2 separate regions of the Homo sapiens genome follow, and region 1 is linked to region 2. A link means that fine-mapping ties the variant in region 2 to the expression of a gene that starts in the linked region. Tissue or cell type: spleen. Region 2 holds a variant in brackets; the other region holds the start of a gene. All regions are shown on one strand. Distances are between the middles of the regions.

The links. PIP is the estimated chance that this variant, and not a neighbour inherited with it, causes the effect.
Region 1: UBQLNL starts here. The variant in region 2 is the best candidate, but not a certain one, in a credible set for the expression of UBQLNL in spleen (GTEx, PIP 0.65).

Annotation. Positions count from the first base shown.
Region 1 is chr11:5,512,764-5,520,914 of GRCh38, reverse strand. UBQLNL (ubiquilin like) reads left to right here and starts at 4,216. Exons shown (of 1, transcript NM_145053.5): 1 at 4,216-6,522. The coding sequence starts at 4,474. The coding sequence ends at 5,901. It also overlaps the pseudogene OLFM5P.
Region 2 is chr11:5,548,989-5,557,197 of GRCh38, reverse strand. It overlaps the pseudogene OR52H2P. Among named protein-coding and RNA genes, the nearest start is that of OR52H1, 4.6 kb to the right of the region's middle. RefSeq lists an enhancer at 175-739. The variant A/G (reference allele first, on the strand shown) is at 3,175.

The sequences.
Region 1 (8,151 bases), 36 kb after region 2:
TAGCTTCTTGTGCCCATGGAGGCCTCCAGGAAGTTAGCAAATCCCTTGTGGTGCAGCTCACTCGGAGAGGCTTCTCATATAAGGCAGGTCCCTGGGGCCGAGACTCAGCACCCAATCCAGCCTCTTCCCTTTACTGGGTTGCTCCTCTACGTACAGATGGCAGGTGAGCCCTGAGTGACTTCTGTTCTGCAATCGGATTAATTCCAAATGTCCCCTACCCATACCCAAACAGGGTTCTTTACAGCCCCACGCTGGTTTCTTCTATTTTAAGTATGCCCCAAAGCAAACCTAGCCTAGGCCTGACAGGTCACCTCCTAACGCTCTTCTCATGAGACAAGCGTGACCCAGACTGCCCTGAGTTTCCTTCACAAATCCACTGCCTACAAATTTTAATCCCATAGTAACTCAAAGATGGTTCTACTTCTACTCTGATTCTATGTAAAGAACAAACTCTTCTACACCTGGGCCTCAAAATTCTAACTTCCTGCTTAGAAGTTCAGAGCATGTCTCTGGCCAAGCTTGAGACTTGGAATTAAGCCAATCTGTGTTTGAAACTCTATACTGCCATTTAAGCTAAGTGACCTTGGGAAAATGAATTAACATCTCAGAACCTTTCTTAGCCATATGTAAAATGAGGATAATTATACATATTTGAGAAGATCACATAAGATTACATAGAAAAGTATGTAAAACATAGGTGATGATATGTATTTATTAGATGAAAGAATGGCTAAAAGAGTCAATAAATAGACGAATAAGACCTTCAATACATTGTCAACCTTGCTAGGGAGGTAGGCCCAACACACAGAATGTTAAAAGCCAGTGTGTGTGAAAATGTGATATAGACCTGTTGCGAGAGAGAGACATGAATCTAGGTTGAACCAGTCATTGAAGAGCTCCAGTTGAAGCTCAACTCAGAAAGATCAGTGTTACTGAAAATTAGTATTACTGAAAATAATATTCCCAAAATTCTATGCTTATCTAAAATGTATTGTATAGGCCACAATTTGTAGCATATAACTCATATGTGCTATACTTTGTAGCCTATAAAATACATTTACACGCCTTGGAACCCTCTCAAAATCTATAGGTAATCAGGACTTACAGAACAATGTTAAGAGATAAGATTACTCATAACTCAGAGATAATTTAAGGAACTTTCCAATGTGACCTCATGAGAACAAATCTCCCTGAATCCAGCTCCAGAAATATGTCCTGTTACAGGACCCTTGCATCTTGAGGACAGGTGGAAGGCAGTGCAGAGTAGATACAGAAGAATCTCCATAAGGAAGAAAAAATAATAGCTACCATTTTTTATTGCTTATTGAAACAAATGCTGTACTAATTGTTTTCTTTGCTTTATTTTGGACAGTCCTAACAGTCAATAAAGTAGCTTGTTACTTTTGTTTACAGTTTTTACTTATAAGCTGTGTGACCTCGAGCAAATGACTCAACCTTTCTAAGACTTAGTCTCTTCATCTGTAAGGATAAAACCTACCTTACAGTGCTGTTATTATAATTAAATAAGATTGTGCATATATAGTGTCTAATAGGCACTGTAGCTATTGGTGTTTTATTATTACTGTTACTTTTAAAAATAATTGTTTAGTTTGTCATGGTTGAGTAAGTGAAAGATGAACTAAAGTCAATTGTTTGATAGCAAAGCCCCTGCTCTTAATTAGCAAACTGATCTGCCTATTTTTGTAGCTCTTTGTTACCTTAGTTATGGCTGTCACCCAATAATTCTGAATGCAGGGACTTGGCCTAGGTACTTTGACTACTATCGGCTGTGCAAATCCTATAATGACCTCGCACTGCTGAAAAACTATGAAGAGAGGAAGATGGGCTATGGTGATGGCAGTGGAAACGTTGTGTACAAGAACTTTATGTACTTTAACTACTGTGGCACAAGTGACATGGCCAAAATGGACCTTTCCTCCAACACACTGGTGCTGTGGCGTCTGCTGCCTGGTGCCACCTATAACAACCGCTTTTCCTATGCTGGTGTGCCCTGGAAGGACTTAGATTTTGCTGGTGATGAGAAGGGGCTGTGGGTTCTCTATGCCACTGAGGAGAGCAAGGGCAACCTGGTTGTGAGTCGTCTCAACGCTAGCACCCTAGAAGTGGAGAAAACCTGGCGTACCAGCCAGTACAAGCCAGCCCTGTCAGGGGCCTTCATGGCCTGTGGGGTGCTCTATGCCTTACACTCACTGAACACCCACCAAGAGGAGATCTTCTATGCTTTTGACACCACCACCGGGCAGGAGCGCCGCCTCAGCATCCTGTTGGACAAGATGCTGGAAAAGCTGCAGGGCATCAACTACTGCCCCTCAGACCACAAGCCGTATGTCTTCAGTGATGGTTACCTGATAAATTATGACCTCACCTTCCTGACAATGAAGACCAGGCTACCAAGACCACCCACCAGGAGGCCCTCTGGGGCTCATGCTCCACCAAAACCTGTCAAACCTAACGAGGCTTCCAGACCCTGAGACCCCAGGGCTAGGCAGAGCATTGGTAGAAGTGTGCCCTCTTCCTTACCTCCAGGAGGACCACATCCCAAAGTGGCCATTGGTCCTAATGATTGGAAGACTGATTATATCTAGTGAGTTCTTTATGTAATTAATATCTCAATCAGTACATTAAGGTTCCCTTTAATAATGGTCTAGGTGGATTTGATAGGGAAAAAGTAAAATATTAGCTAAGAAAATGGTACCCTCTCTTTCTGATGCTTTGGCATCTCATATTCCTTTTTTCATAAATCCAGCTCCCGGAACTCAAGAGTTCTGTGATCTAGAATTGTCAATCTCAGGTTGGGAACACCTGATTCCAGTGCAGAAGCTGCAGGGCAGCTGGTCATTAGAGTAGGATATGAAAGTTCCCTTTCTTATCTCCACCTTCCTGTGAGGTCCCTGGGGAGAAAAGGGGCAAGATCTTGGTCTGGTAATCAATTTTTCATTGTCCTGGATCGATCTCACTTTTGAGTGCAATTGCAAGAGAATAGGCCTGAGTCTTGCTGTAGTAAGTTAGCAACTGGCCTTATAGCATGATGAGGATCTGACATGGATGGTGCTGGGGGTCTAGATATTCTCAATAAAGAATCATTGGTTTGATAGCAGAAGGTCTCCTGGCCAACGGCCTATCATCCCTTTGCTTGTCTTCAACACACTGGGAACATATGGGCTCGAGCTTTTTGCTTGTTCCTTAGCTATCTGTGTGGTGCTCCTCCCTCTCCAGGCAGGTGGATGGAATATATAAAATCCAGACCCTGAAGGCTTCCTAGTAACACAGAATATGCATACAATTTCATATATACATTCGATAAGACATGTACACTCTCACTCATATAAATAATTATTTCCATCTGCATCTAAATAAAAACCAAACACAATTCTCCAAATTTACATGGGACCAAGAATCCAGCTTTTTAGTTGCCTGTATTTGTCCCCTTAAGAATTTTACTACTAACCACCTCCTCTCCCACCTCTTGATTTACAGACGACATTCCCCCTTAATGCTTTGACATAAAGGTGGGCACACAAGAGTGGGTTAGGACATTGAAACAAATCATTCTAAAACTTCTGTTATATTGACATGTAGAAGAGACCAAGTGATATGTGAATAAAAGGCATATTATAAAAAAGAGCTAATTCACATTTAGTTTGGCATGTGCCTATGAAGAGCCTTCCTGGTTAGCCCTACTCCTGCTTCCTAGGACAGAGGAAAATTTTCCCCACCACATGGGAGCACAATTAAATATAGAATCCCAAAATCTAGACTCTATATAAGACCCAAATTTCCAGATCATTAAAAAAATTAATGCGCTCCTTCCTATGGGAGAGACTGCATTCTTATAGGAATGTGGCTTTATCTATGGCTTCAGTAGACCCAACTTTTCATACAAGTCTAACATCCCTATAAGGAACATACACACAGTATCACACGGAAACACACATCCCACATTTAAAAATATGGTTTTTATTTACTTTTTTGTTTTCTTACTAGTTCCATCCAGAGAACTTTGTCCCTGTTTTCTGGAAAATTATTTTATTTTATTGTAGAGCCCTGGACCCCTAAATATGTCCTCCTTCCCCAGCTGGCCCAGGGTGACTGCGAGGATAGAGTTGACATCACAATATCCCTTTTCTGAGGATTCATGCCCCTGGTGGGTGGGGTAGGAGGAGGGGTAGCCCTAGGAGAAGTCATCACCACTTTGTCCACCATGGGTGAATTATGAATCAGTAGCTATGCCAGGCCTCAGCTGGGCCACATCTGGAGAACTGGGGTGAGGGCACAACATCACAAAATATCTGGCCCCAGTCTGGTCACTCATCCCTTTTAGGGCAACAAGGAAACTATCCTGTGGCCTGAGAGCACAATACCTGAGACAAAGGCCAGCAGAAACATTTGTCTGCCCTCACCCTTTCTGCCCCAGCTTCCACCTGCTCCCCATCTGCCCACCCACTAAAGCCCATGTGGCATGCCATCTCTCGAACATCCAGGATGTCCCAGAGTGGATGTCCATCAGGTCTGCTGGCAGACAAAAATATCTCTTCAAGTGCCACTCGAGTGATAGTGAAGACTGCAGGCAACCAGAAAGACTTTATGGTAGCTGATGACATCTCGGTAAGGCAGTTCAAGGAGATGCTATTGGCTCACTTCCAATGCCAGATGGACCAACTAGTGCTGGTCTTCATGGGTTGCCTTCTCAAAGACCATGACACACTGAGCCAGAGGGGCATCATGGATGGCCACACCATCTACTTGGTCATCAAGTCCAAGCAGGGCTCCAGATCTCTAGCCCATTCCTTCCGGGACCTGCCAACGAATGATCCCTGCCACCGGGACAGAAACACCAAAGGAAACAGCAGCAGAGTGCACCAACCAACTGGTATGAATCAAGCTCCAGTGGAACTGGCCCACTTTGTGGGGTCTGATGCACCCAAAGTGCATACCCAAAACTTGGAAGTGAGCCACCCAGAGTGCAAAGCACAGATGCTGGAGAATCCTAGCATCCAGCGGCTTCTGTCCAACATGGAGTTCATGTGGCAGTTCATTTCAGAACATCTAGACACGCAACAATTGATGCAGCAGAACCCAGAAGTTTCCCGCCTTCTTCTTGATAATTCTGAGATCCTATTGCAGACTCTGGAGCTGGCCAGGAACCTTGCTATGATCCAAGAGATAATGCAGATCCAACAACCTTCACAAAACCTTGAGTATCCACTGAACCCACAGCCATATCTGGGCTTAGAGACAATGCCAGGTGGGAATAATGCCCTGGGTCAGAACTATGCTGATATCAATGATCAAATGCTGAACAGCATGCAAGATCCTTTTGGAGGAAACCCTTTCACAGCTCTCCTGGCAGGACAAGTGCTAGAACAAGTCCAGTCTTCACCCCCACCTCCACCACCATCACAGGAACAACAAGACCAGCTCACACAGCATCCTGCAACCCGAGTCATCTATAATAGCTCTGGTGGTTTCTCTTCAAACACCTCAGCCAATGACACCCTTAACAAGGTCAACCACACTTCCAAAGCCAACACTGCTATGATTTCCACCAAGGGCCAGAGCCATATCTGTGCCACTCGGCAGCCAGCTTGGATACCAGCCTTACCTAGCATAGAGCTTACCCAGCAGCTTCAAGAAGAATACAAGGATGCCACTGTTTCTCTAAGTAGCTCCAGACAGACATTAAAGGGTGATCTCCAGCTGTCAGATGAGCAGAGCAGCTCCCAGATCACAGGAGGCATGATGCAGTTGCTTATGAACAACCCCTACCTGGCAGCTCAGATTATGTTGTTCACAAGTATGCCCCAGCTGAGTGAACAGTGGAGGCAGCAGCTGCCCACATTCCTGCAGCAGACACAGATTTCTGATCTGCTTAGTGCTTAGGCAACCCTAAAGCATTCCAAGCAATATTGCAGATTGAGCAGGCCCTCCAGCTGCTGGCCACAGAGGCTCCTGTTCTTCTGCCTTGGGTTGCACCCTACCTATGGGGCCTGGGTTGGCTTCCTGCCCCCAGCTGCAGCTATCCTGACACAGTGCCCTGTTCCTGGAATGTTTCAGATACAGCTGAGCCCAAGGGACCTGAGTGCTGCCACAAGCCTGGAACAGTCCTGCAGAGGCTACAATCCCCGGATGGGGACCCTTCCCACCCTCTGCAAGCTCCTGAGATTTGTTTTAGCAAACAGATGGATTCTCTCCAGGCCATGGGATTTGGGAACCACCATGCCAATCTACAGGCACTCATTGCTACTGAAGGGGACACCAATGCTGCTATCCGCAAGCTCAAGAGATCCCAGAGATTCTAACCACCATGCCTACTTGTTTGCTTGCTACCTGCCTGCTGACCCACCTGACCATCTCATTTGCCTTTTGCACCTTTCCTGATGCTTCCAGCCAGGAGAAGTCCTGGAATAAGAGTTATCAACCAATGTGTCTTGTACTGAATAATAGATCATTGGTCGTGGCTGAAACATCTGTCAATAAAATGGCTACACTCACTTGCTGCGATCTGAGGTTTGGCTTTACTTCTTTTGCAAAAAAAAAAAGAAAAAACTAGCTGTGTGAGATTTTTGTCTCACCTACTATATGTACATTAACACACAAACCACATGCATATATTAATATAGAGATAAAAATAATGTTTTTATCTCTAAAACATGAGCATTTTGAGCATGGTATATGAAACTTGAGCATGGTATATGAAACTGATTATTTTGAGCATGTCACCTTGGACAGGTGTGTGTATGTACACAAGCTCACATAGTAAAAAATTCACATATACAGGCATATAGAGTCCACATATGAGTACACACAGCCATGTGCAAACACAGATGCAAATACCTAGAGACACATAAATAGACCCATATGTAGGGAAAACAATCATAACATGCTCAAACAGAAAGGGAAACATTTTACATAGATAGGCCCAGATATTTAGTCATAAAGACTGCCTGAATTTCTCAAACCCAAATTGTTCAAGTTTGAAAGTGGAACAGGAATAATATGAGGGCCAGAGTAGGGTGAATTCACATATTAACCAAGTCCGGATGAATAGTTATCATCATTGGAACCTCCTGCTCGTTGATTTTGCCACCATTATAAGATGGTGATGGGCTGTCTCTACTGTCTCTTTAGCACACAGAGATGCAGCTGCTGCCATCTCCACTGTATATCCCAGTCACCACAAATCCAGCCCTCCATGGGGCACAGCACCTTCCAAGAATATCACCTCCTTCAGTATATCTATCTTATGTTTGTAGTTTACATTTTCCATGGTTGCCAATGCCCCACCTTTTTCTCTTTCTGCCTCACCTAGAGTATCCCACCATGGCAGGATATGCAATTATTTGTGTTTTAATGATTCCATGATTAAATAATTTAAAACACTTTTACCATAATAATTCAATGTTGTTTTAGGCATTGAAAAAAATAGCAGTGAAAAAAACAAAGATCCTTTATTTATTGACTTTACTTTCTTTTGTGGAGATACAAGTTATGTTAAGTGGTAAGTGCTGTGAAGAAAAATGAATCAGAATAAGATATTCTACATAGGGTGATGAGGGAAGGCCTCTCTGAAAAGGTGACATTTGAGCAGAAGTCAGAAGTAACTACGAGAACTGAACATGCAATTCACTGGGAGAAGGAAGATCCAGGGGCTGTCTGAAAGTAAAAGGCCCAAGGTAGCAGTATTCCTGCTATGTTTTAAGAATAACAAGGAGGTGATGTAGCTGAAATGGACAAAAAGGAGCGGGGAATGGGGAGGAAGTCAGAGAGATTGTGAAAAGTTTTATAGGTCTGGTGAAAACTTTGGATTTTACTGTGAATGTAATAGTCACTGGTGAGTTTTGAGCAAATAAATCAAATAATTCAATTTATCAGTCTGGCTTCAGAGTGGAGAATGGACTGTGGTAGAGGAAAACCAGGGAAGCAGGGAAACCAGTTAGGAGGCTTTTATGATAGAGCAGTTGAGAAACAGTAGTTTCTTGCAGTAGGGTGGGAGCAGGGGAGGTGTTGAGGAGTAGATTCTGGACTCTAAAGGGGACCCATCCACAGAGATTTGTGTGCTCAACAGACCACCCCTTCTGAGCCCCAACATGGCCATCGGTAAGAGTGAAGGGCGGGCCTACAAACTTCCAA
Region 2 (8,209 bases):
GCCAAAAATTACACTCTGAAATAAAATTACTTACTTTACTCCTGCCCACTTGGCTAGCCCACAAAGGAAAGGTTTCTTGCAATCTAGGTGGTTACAGTAACTTCCACGTGTCTGTGTGTCCAAGTTCACCAGAAATGTTCTGCTTGCTATCTGTGCAATCTAGCTCACACACTTCCATCCATTCCTTCAACCACAGATGGGAGACTCCCACTGCGCTGCAGACACGATGAGCCTGAGAGCATTTATGGCTCCTAAGAAAGTCCCAGTGGAGTGACCTCTGGGACTTGTTTCCTGCCCCTGTCTCCAGCTAAACAGCACACAGGGACAAGTGAGCAAAGAAGAAAACAGTAAACTTCTTTTCTGTTTAACTGGCAATAACACCTTGAGTGTCTGTGTACTGAGCAGTGAGCCCCATAGAGGTGCCTAGGATGCAACATTAAAGGAAGCACTTAAAACCCTGAGAGTGAGTCCTTTGTTCCTTAAATGTTGCACTCTAGGCATTTCCCCCAATTCCAGCCCTGGAGGAAGCATTATTTAATTCATCCCTTTTAGCATGTATCATCATTTCTCCCTGGACTACAGGGAAATTCTCAAACTCATTCTGTTTCTAAAACTTCATTTCAATTGCATCTTACTTCATTCCAACAGCAAGTCTACACAGCAGCCAGAATGCAGTTTTCAATATGTCAATTTCATTCTGTCACACTCCCAAGTAAAATCCTCTATCAGCCCCCTCCCTCCCTTAGTCTTCAGGATAAGATTCAAGTTCTGAATCAGAAAGTACAAGTTCTTGTTTACTTCTCCAAACTCATCTGACCTTCCTCTTCTTTTCTCTCAGTCTCAGCATATCTAGGGTGCTGTCCATATCGGGGTGCATACAATTCCCCAAATCTCACAATATTCTCACTTAATCCTTCACATTTGAAATAATGTCTTCTCTGCCTAGCGTATCCCTATTCCTGTCATTTGCCTTGAGAATTTCTCTTTTTCCTTCAAAACACAGCTCCAATATAAGATTCTTGACCATCCTGCCCTCTTTCCTAATTGCATAGTATCTTCTCTGTGCCCACACAGATCCTTGTGCTTTTTGAGGTTACATATTATTTGTCACTCTGCAGTGGAATTGCCTCCTTCTGTGTGTATTTCCCTACTAATCCGTGATCTCCTTGAGGACAGTTAAAAAAAAAAGTCTTAGTCATATCTGCATCCACAGTGCTTGTTACACAGTAGAATAAAATACAAAATTAAATTAAAACTTAAAAAAAGATCACTATGTAATGTACTAAACAATGTACAAAGTGCATTGCTTATAACATTGCAATCAATCCTCAAACCCTGTGAGGTAGCTTAGATCTTCATACACACATGAGGAAACAGAATCTTGGAGTGGTTAAATAAATTTCCCAATTTCATCTAAAGAGAACTGATGGAGTTGGTGTATGGCAGCCAGGAGTGTCTGGCCTCCAGCTCTTTCCTCGTAACCGTCTATACTGTCCTGTAGACTGCCTCAACAAATGGTGGTTGGACAAATGCATAAATATAAGAATAGCAAACTGGGACAGGGTGCATCCTTTTATGCTGGTTATACTTAGGGTTTATGGCATAACCAATGCATCCAGATGAATGCCACCTTTCCAGATGAATGTCTCTTGAAGAGGCTAGGTGCCTGCTAAAAATGTTTGCTATTTTTCATAATTTTGATGTTTTCATTAGACTTCCTTCCTTCCTTCCTTCCTTCCTTCCTTCCTTCCTTCTTCTCTCTCCCTTCTCTCTCTCTCCCTTTCTCTTTCTTTCTTTCTCTCTCTCTCTTTCTTTCTTTCTCTTTCTCTTTTTCTTTTCATTTTTAGCATATGAGCCACATATATTAAAACACACATAACAACCACCACCACCACCACCACCAAGTACCTGCTGCTTTCAAGGAGCTTATTTCCACATCTAGCTCCTTCTTACCTGAAGGACTTTACACACACTTTTCTTTCTAAATGCTTTCCTTTCTGTTTTAGCCTACTGAAAATAATATAGTGTAAAGTGGAGTCGAAGAAAAGATCTGAGGTCAAACTACCTGTTAGAAATTTGGCTTTTCCACTTAACAGCTGAACAAATTTGGATATACTTTCTGTGTATCATCTTTTTTCTTGTCTGTAATATGGAAACAATAAGGGGGACCTACCTCTCTGGGAGGGAGGAAGGGCTAAATTCAATTGACTTACAGGTAGAATTCAGTATTATTTATTTTATTATATTTTTGTTAAAATCAACCTCATTTTACAATATCTTCCTCCAAGAATCCTTTCCTATCTCCTGCAGGTCCAATCGTCTTTGTTATTGATTCTCATGATAACCTATATATTTCCATAACATACATCGCAGGTAATAATTATTCTTATACATATAACCTACTGCTTATTTGAATAGTGTCTGTCTTCCTCAATAAATTATCTCCACCACGAGAGGCATTGCATCTGTTTTATACACACTATCTTTCCAGTACCTATTACATGCTTACATCTTTATTGACTGATTGGCTGCTACCCATTTCCCAGCACTCCGCTAAATATACCTAGATGATGTAAATTTACCAAAATATATCATAACTTCATGCCTCTAAGCCTTTGTATGTGTTGCTTTCTCTGCCTGAAATGTTTTTTCTCTGTCTTCTTGAGTAATCTGCATCATCCTCAAGACTCACATTGTTTCACCTATTTCTCAAGATCTTCTCTGATGCTACAGGTTTTGATAATACCTCTCCACTCAGTTTCCACAGGCATCTTTGAATTCCCTATGACTTTCATTCTGCATTGAAATTTTCTTTTACAAATCTGTTGACTTTAGCAGGTAATGTTCTCTTAAGAATAGACTGATATGTGTTTCTGAATACCTAAGGTTTAGCATCATGTCTGGTTTCCTGGGCCTGGCAAATTATTTGTAGTATTAATAAACATTTGTTCCTTTTAACTGTGCAAACTACCTTTTGTCCTGTTTAATGCTTTCTAAGTTAAATTTTACTTTTTATGCTTTCCATTTTGCTAGACTTGCTTCCATCACATTTAAATTTGTCAGAAACACACTTGTCTATCCTTTTTATCCTTGTTTATTCACACTTGTTTATCCTTTATGCATCATTTTGTTTTAGATCTTACTCATATAAGTGACATATAATTGAATTTTTAA[A/G]CTTTATTTATCTTTGTGCTTTTTGATAGAGGAATTCCAGCAATCTACATTTATAAGCATAAATGATGTATTTGGTTTTATGTTGTTAACTTGTTTTATATTTTTAGTTTTCTATATATTGGTTAATTTTGTATCTTTTGCTATGCAGATATTATACATGTTATTTGCCATACAGACTCTGTAGATAATTTTGGTTATATATAGAGGAGTCTAGGAAAAGACTCGTGGGTCTGATTCCCAGCACTACCATTTCCTTCTTGTGTGACTTTTGACAAATCACTTTTCTCTGCATCCTTAAAATGTGGATAATATTATTACCTGTCTCATAGAATTGTTAAGAAAATTACAAAAGTGGTCTCATGTAGTATATTAAAGGTTTTCAAAAAATATTAGCTTCTGTTATAAAGTTTATTTGCTTTTAGCTTGACCTAGGATTTAGAATATATAAATTGTATTTTTCTTCCACTAGAGGTCCTCTCTGTATTTGTAAAAAGCACACAAACCAATTTTCTCTGATTCTTAAACAAGATTTCCTCATTAATTCCTAAGGGTGGACTGAGATTGAGCCTCATACCCTTTCTCATTTCATTCATATAGGAGGCATCAAACATCACAATCTCAGAGAACATTCTGGTCTACAAGCCTTAAGTCTCTCTATGTAGTGTCTGAGATATCAGAACAGTCGTTGAAATTGGGGTAGGGTCAGTGTTGGGACAAATTACAGTTCCAGTGATCCGTTTCTTTACATCCTTTGCTACACGTCCACGCCTCTTCTGAATTCTTGGCATCTCACAGTGAGTTGAAGCAGTTACCTGGTGTAACAGCAACATGAAAGAGTAGTGGCTGTGGAATCTAATGACCTTGGCTCTGCTAGTTACTAAAGGTGAGATGTTAGGTAAGATTATGTCTCAGTTTCAGTTTCTGTAAAAAAAAAAAAAAATGAGGTGGATAAAAATACGTATCTCAGAAGGTTTTTCTAAATAAGATAATATTTTTCAAGAAACTGGCATGTACTAGGAGTCAGTAATTGTTAATTATCTCATTTTCCCAACTGTGACCCAGTATTTTTCAGTTTCTTTCTATCCCTGCATGTAGTTAGACTACTTTTCTCTATACTCATATTTATATAGCAGCAACTTACATTGACCCAGGGAGAACTCAGTCATTAAAATGGGAACAGCAGTTTATGCAGTTTGAAGAAGATTCTAGAGTAACTGGATGATTAGTATCAGAAGTATTGGGTCTGAGAGTCTTTCTTCAAGTGATGAACATTGCTGTTAATATCAATGAGAGGTTTTTTCTTGGAATATAGGAAAGAGGCGGACCAGCCCCTAGGAAGCAGTGGAGGAAGAATTACCATACAATTTCCTCATGTTCATTATAAGCAATTTGTTTTTAGGACACAGAAGCTATTGATCTTAAAGGCCATGTACAACATGAGTGACCATGGTACAGGCCTGTTCATCCTTTTGGGTATCCCTGGACTTGAGCAGTACCACGTCTGGATCAGCATCCCATTCTGCTTAATCTATCTCATGGCTGTCGTGGCCAATAGTATCCTTCTCTACCTCATTGTGGTAGAGCACAGTCTTCATGCACCCATGTTCTTTTTCCTTTCCATGCTGGCCATTACTGATCTCATATTGTCCACCACATGTGTCCCCAAAACACTTAGCATCTTCTGGTTTGGTCCCCAAACAGTTTCCCTGGCTGTCTCACCCAATTATTCTTTCTGCACTATAGCTTTGTGTTGGACTCAGCTATACTGCTGGCCATGGCATTTGACCGCTATATGGCCATTTGCTCACCCTTGAGATACACTACTATTCTGACTCCCAAAACCATTGTCAAAATTGCTGTGGGAATATGTTTCCGAAGTTTCTGTGTTTTTGTCCCATGTGTTTTCCTTGTGAATCGTTTACCCTTCTGCAGGACACATATCATTTCTCACACATACTGTGAGCACATAGGTGTTGCCCAGCTTGCCTGTGCTGATATCTCCATCAATATCTGGTGTGGATTTTGTGTTCCCATCATGACGGTGATGACAGACGTGATCCTCATTGCTGTCTCCTACACCCTCATCCTCTGTGCTGTCTTTTGCCTCCCCTCCCAAGATGCCCGTCAGAAGGCCCTTTGCTCCTGTGGTTCCCATGTCTGTGTTATCCTCATATTCTATATACCAGCATTCTTCTCCATTCTTGCCCATTGCTTTGGGCATAATGTCCCTCATACCTTTCATATTATGTTTGCCAACCTTTATGTAATCATTCCACCTGCTCTCAACTCTATTGTCTACAGAATAAAGACCAAGCAAATCCAGAACAGAATCCTTTTGCTCTTTCCCAAGGGGTCCCAGTGATAGGTGCCTGAGCTCTTGGAGGTAGGGACAAGTTCCTAGTGTGTGTTAGGTCAAAGACTGAACCTGTGTTCAGACACCCAAGAGAAAGGACAGACTAAAATTTATTAACGAAAACTTGAGTTTTGCTTTCTTTGTGATTTGAGGCAGAAGTCTACTCAATCATTTCAGTTATAGCAAAGTAAGTTCTGAGTCTAGGAAATAATAAATATTTTTTGACTTCTAGAAACAAGAACTTTTGTAATTCCTTATGATTGCTCTAAAGTGATTATAAAACTTTTAATGAAGACAATGTAATGATTGGCAAATCTGAATGGTTTTTCAGATTTATTTATCATGGTAGTTTATTTATACATCATAGCAAGGCAGGAAAATTACCTCTTTGATGACTCTGCAGGGTTCTGGGTTTTTACTTTGTTCACTCCTATTAATTTCTAAACAACATCAAGTATAATACCTAGCACACACTAGGGACATAGGCAACATTTATCAAATAAATAAATGGCAAATAATCATAAAATTATTAATTTAAGAGTGCAGGTGTTTATATTAAGCAAAGGGATAAGGCAATGATAAAACTCAATGTTTAACTCAACCTTGAGAAAGCCAAATGAGTTGTGGGTGGGTGGAGTTTTCCACAAGGAATAAAAGGAGGAAGGCAAATTCCTATGGCTAGTAAAATGGTAAAGCACGTACAGACTAAGAAGTGGGTTTAAGACTTGACCAATTGGAAGCATTGGTGGTCTCAATTTTTTTCATGTTTGTATCTCCATAGAGATGTAGTCACAAGCCAAAAATGTACCTCTGTATGATTCATTGTCTCTTCAAATCCAGTATGCATAACTTGGTCATAGTGAGTCATTCAGTCACTTGGTCAGTAATACTTATTTTTAGGTGTCTGCCAGGCAGCAATGATAATCAATGTCTTATTTCCCTTTCAAATCTGATACGTCCTCAAAACCTGTGGTTTTTTTCTAAATAACCTCTTGGATTCCCCGGCTGAGTGCAGGCACCCTCCTCCCCTACCCCAGTAGTTCAAACCCTCACTGCTTTCACTTGACTCAAAATATCAGAGTTGTTCATGGTCTCTTTACCTTGAGACTACTTTCCCATCCCCGTGCTACTACCCTTTTCACATGTCATTGAATTTTTATTTCTACAATGGCTCTCAACATATAGTTTTAATAGAAAAGAATGTCCTTTGGACTCGGAGAATTGTGTTTGAATTTATAGTCTATCTCTTAACATGTGACAATAGCTACATGCATTGTTTCCAAAATTACTTGATGTATTTTGCATACCATAAATAAAAATATAGTCAGGTCCCACTTAACAATGAGGATAGAGTCTCATAAATGTGTTGTTAGATGATTTTATTATTGTGCAAATATCATAGAGTGTACTTACACAAACCTGTGTGATACAGCCTTGGCTCTCTATTATATTCTATAGCTCCTAGGCTACAAAACTGTACATCATGTTACTATACCGAATATTGTAGGGAAGTATAATATAATGGTATTTGTGCATCTAAACATGTCTAAACATAGACAAGGTACTCTAAAATATGGTATTGTAATCTTATGGGACAATTGTTCAGAAACATTGTTATGTGGCATATTACAAAGTATAAATAGAAAAGGCAAAAAGAAAAGTAGAAAGATTTTTAAAAATTAAGACAAAAAATAGGCCGAAAATACACTTTCCACCTGCTATGAATTTTTGTTCTCTTATTATATGTGGGTCAGAAATTGAGCTGTAAGCTTTCTAACAGTCTATGTGAGAGTTAAACATGATTAGCTACATAATTCATGATGGCTATAAGTTACAGACAGTTAATTGTTAGAGAAGCAAAACTACTTCTTATATGAAGAATGGAGAAATATCTTTAGAAAGCTCTTAAAGAATAGGCAGTAAGTGATGCAATTAATCACATTCTTACAGAATACACAAGTTCATGTGACTCTTCAGTCCCTTATCCTAGTATAGAGAGGTGAAGCAACCTCAATTTTTATTCAGCGAAAGGTAAAAATTCTGTTGGGAGCCAATACAATACTAATCTCATTAGTTCTGGTTTATTCCAGATATTCTAGAACATTCAGAGTACTGAGTGGACTCCTGGCAATCTTTATTAATTAACACATTCAACAATATTTAGCAAACGTTTGACAAACATTGACAAAAACTGACTTGGCTTTCAGAATTGTTGGGTAAAAGCCTCTTAGGTAAAAATTGATATCTGGACTTGCAGAAATTCCTGACAGTACCAGCTGGTAGACCTAACAGTTTCTCCATAAGAATATATTTTATTTGCTCATATTGTTTTTACCAATAAAAATGTTTAATGAAGTTTAATGTTTTAAAAATTATAAGTGGGAGATAAGCTATAGGTATGCAAGGGCACACATAGTAGTATAATGGACATTGGAGACCCAGAAGAGGAGAAGCTAGGAGAGGGGTGAGGGATGAAACATCACCTATTGAGTACAATCTACGCAATATGGGTGACAGGTACGCTAGAAACCCAGACTTCAACCTTATACAATTCACCCATGTAATCAAAAAACACTTGTACCCCTAAAGCCACTGGAATTTTTAAAAGATAATATTAGAATTATTTCATGTGGGCCATATAATTTTCATCTTAACAGGTGCCCTAGGTTATTCCTTTACACC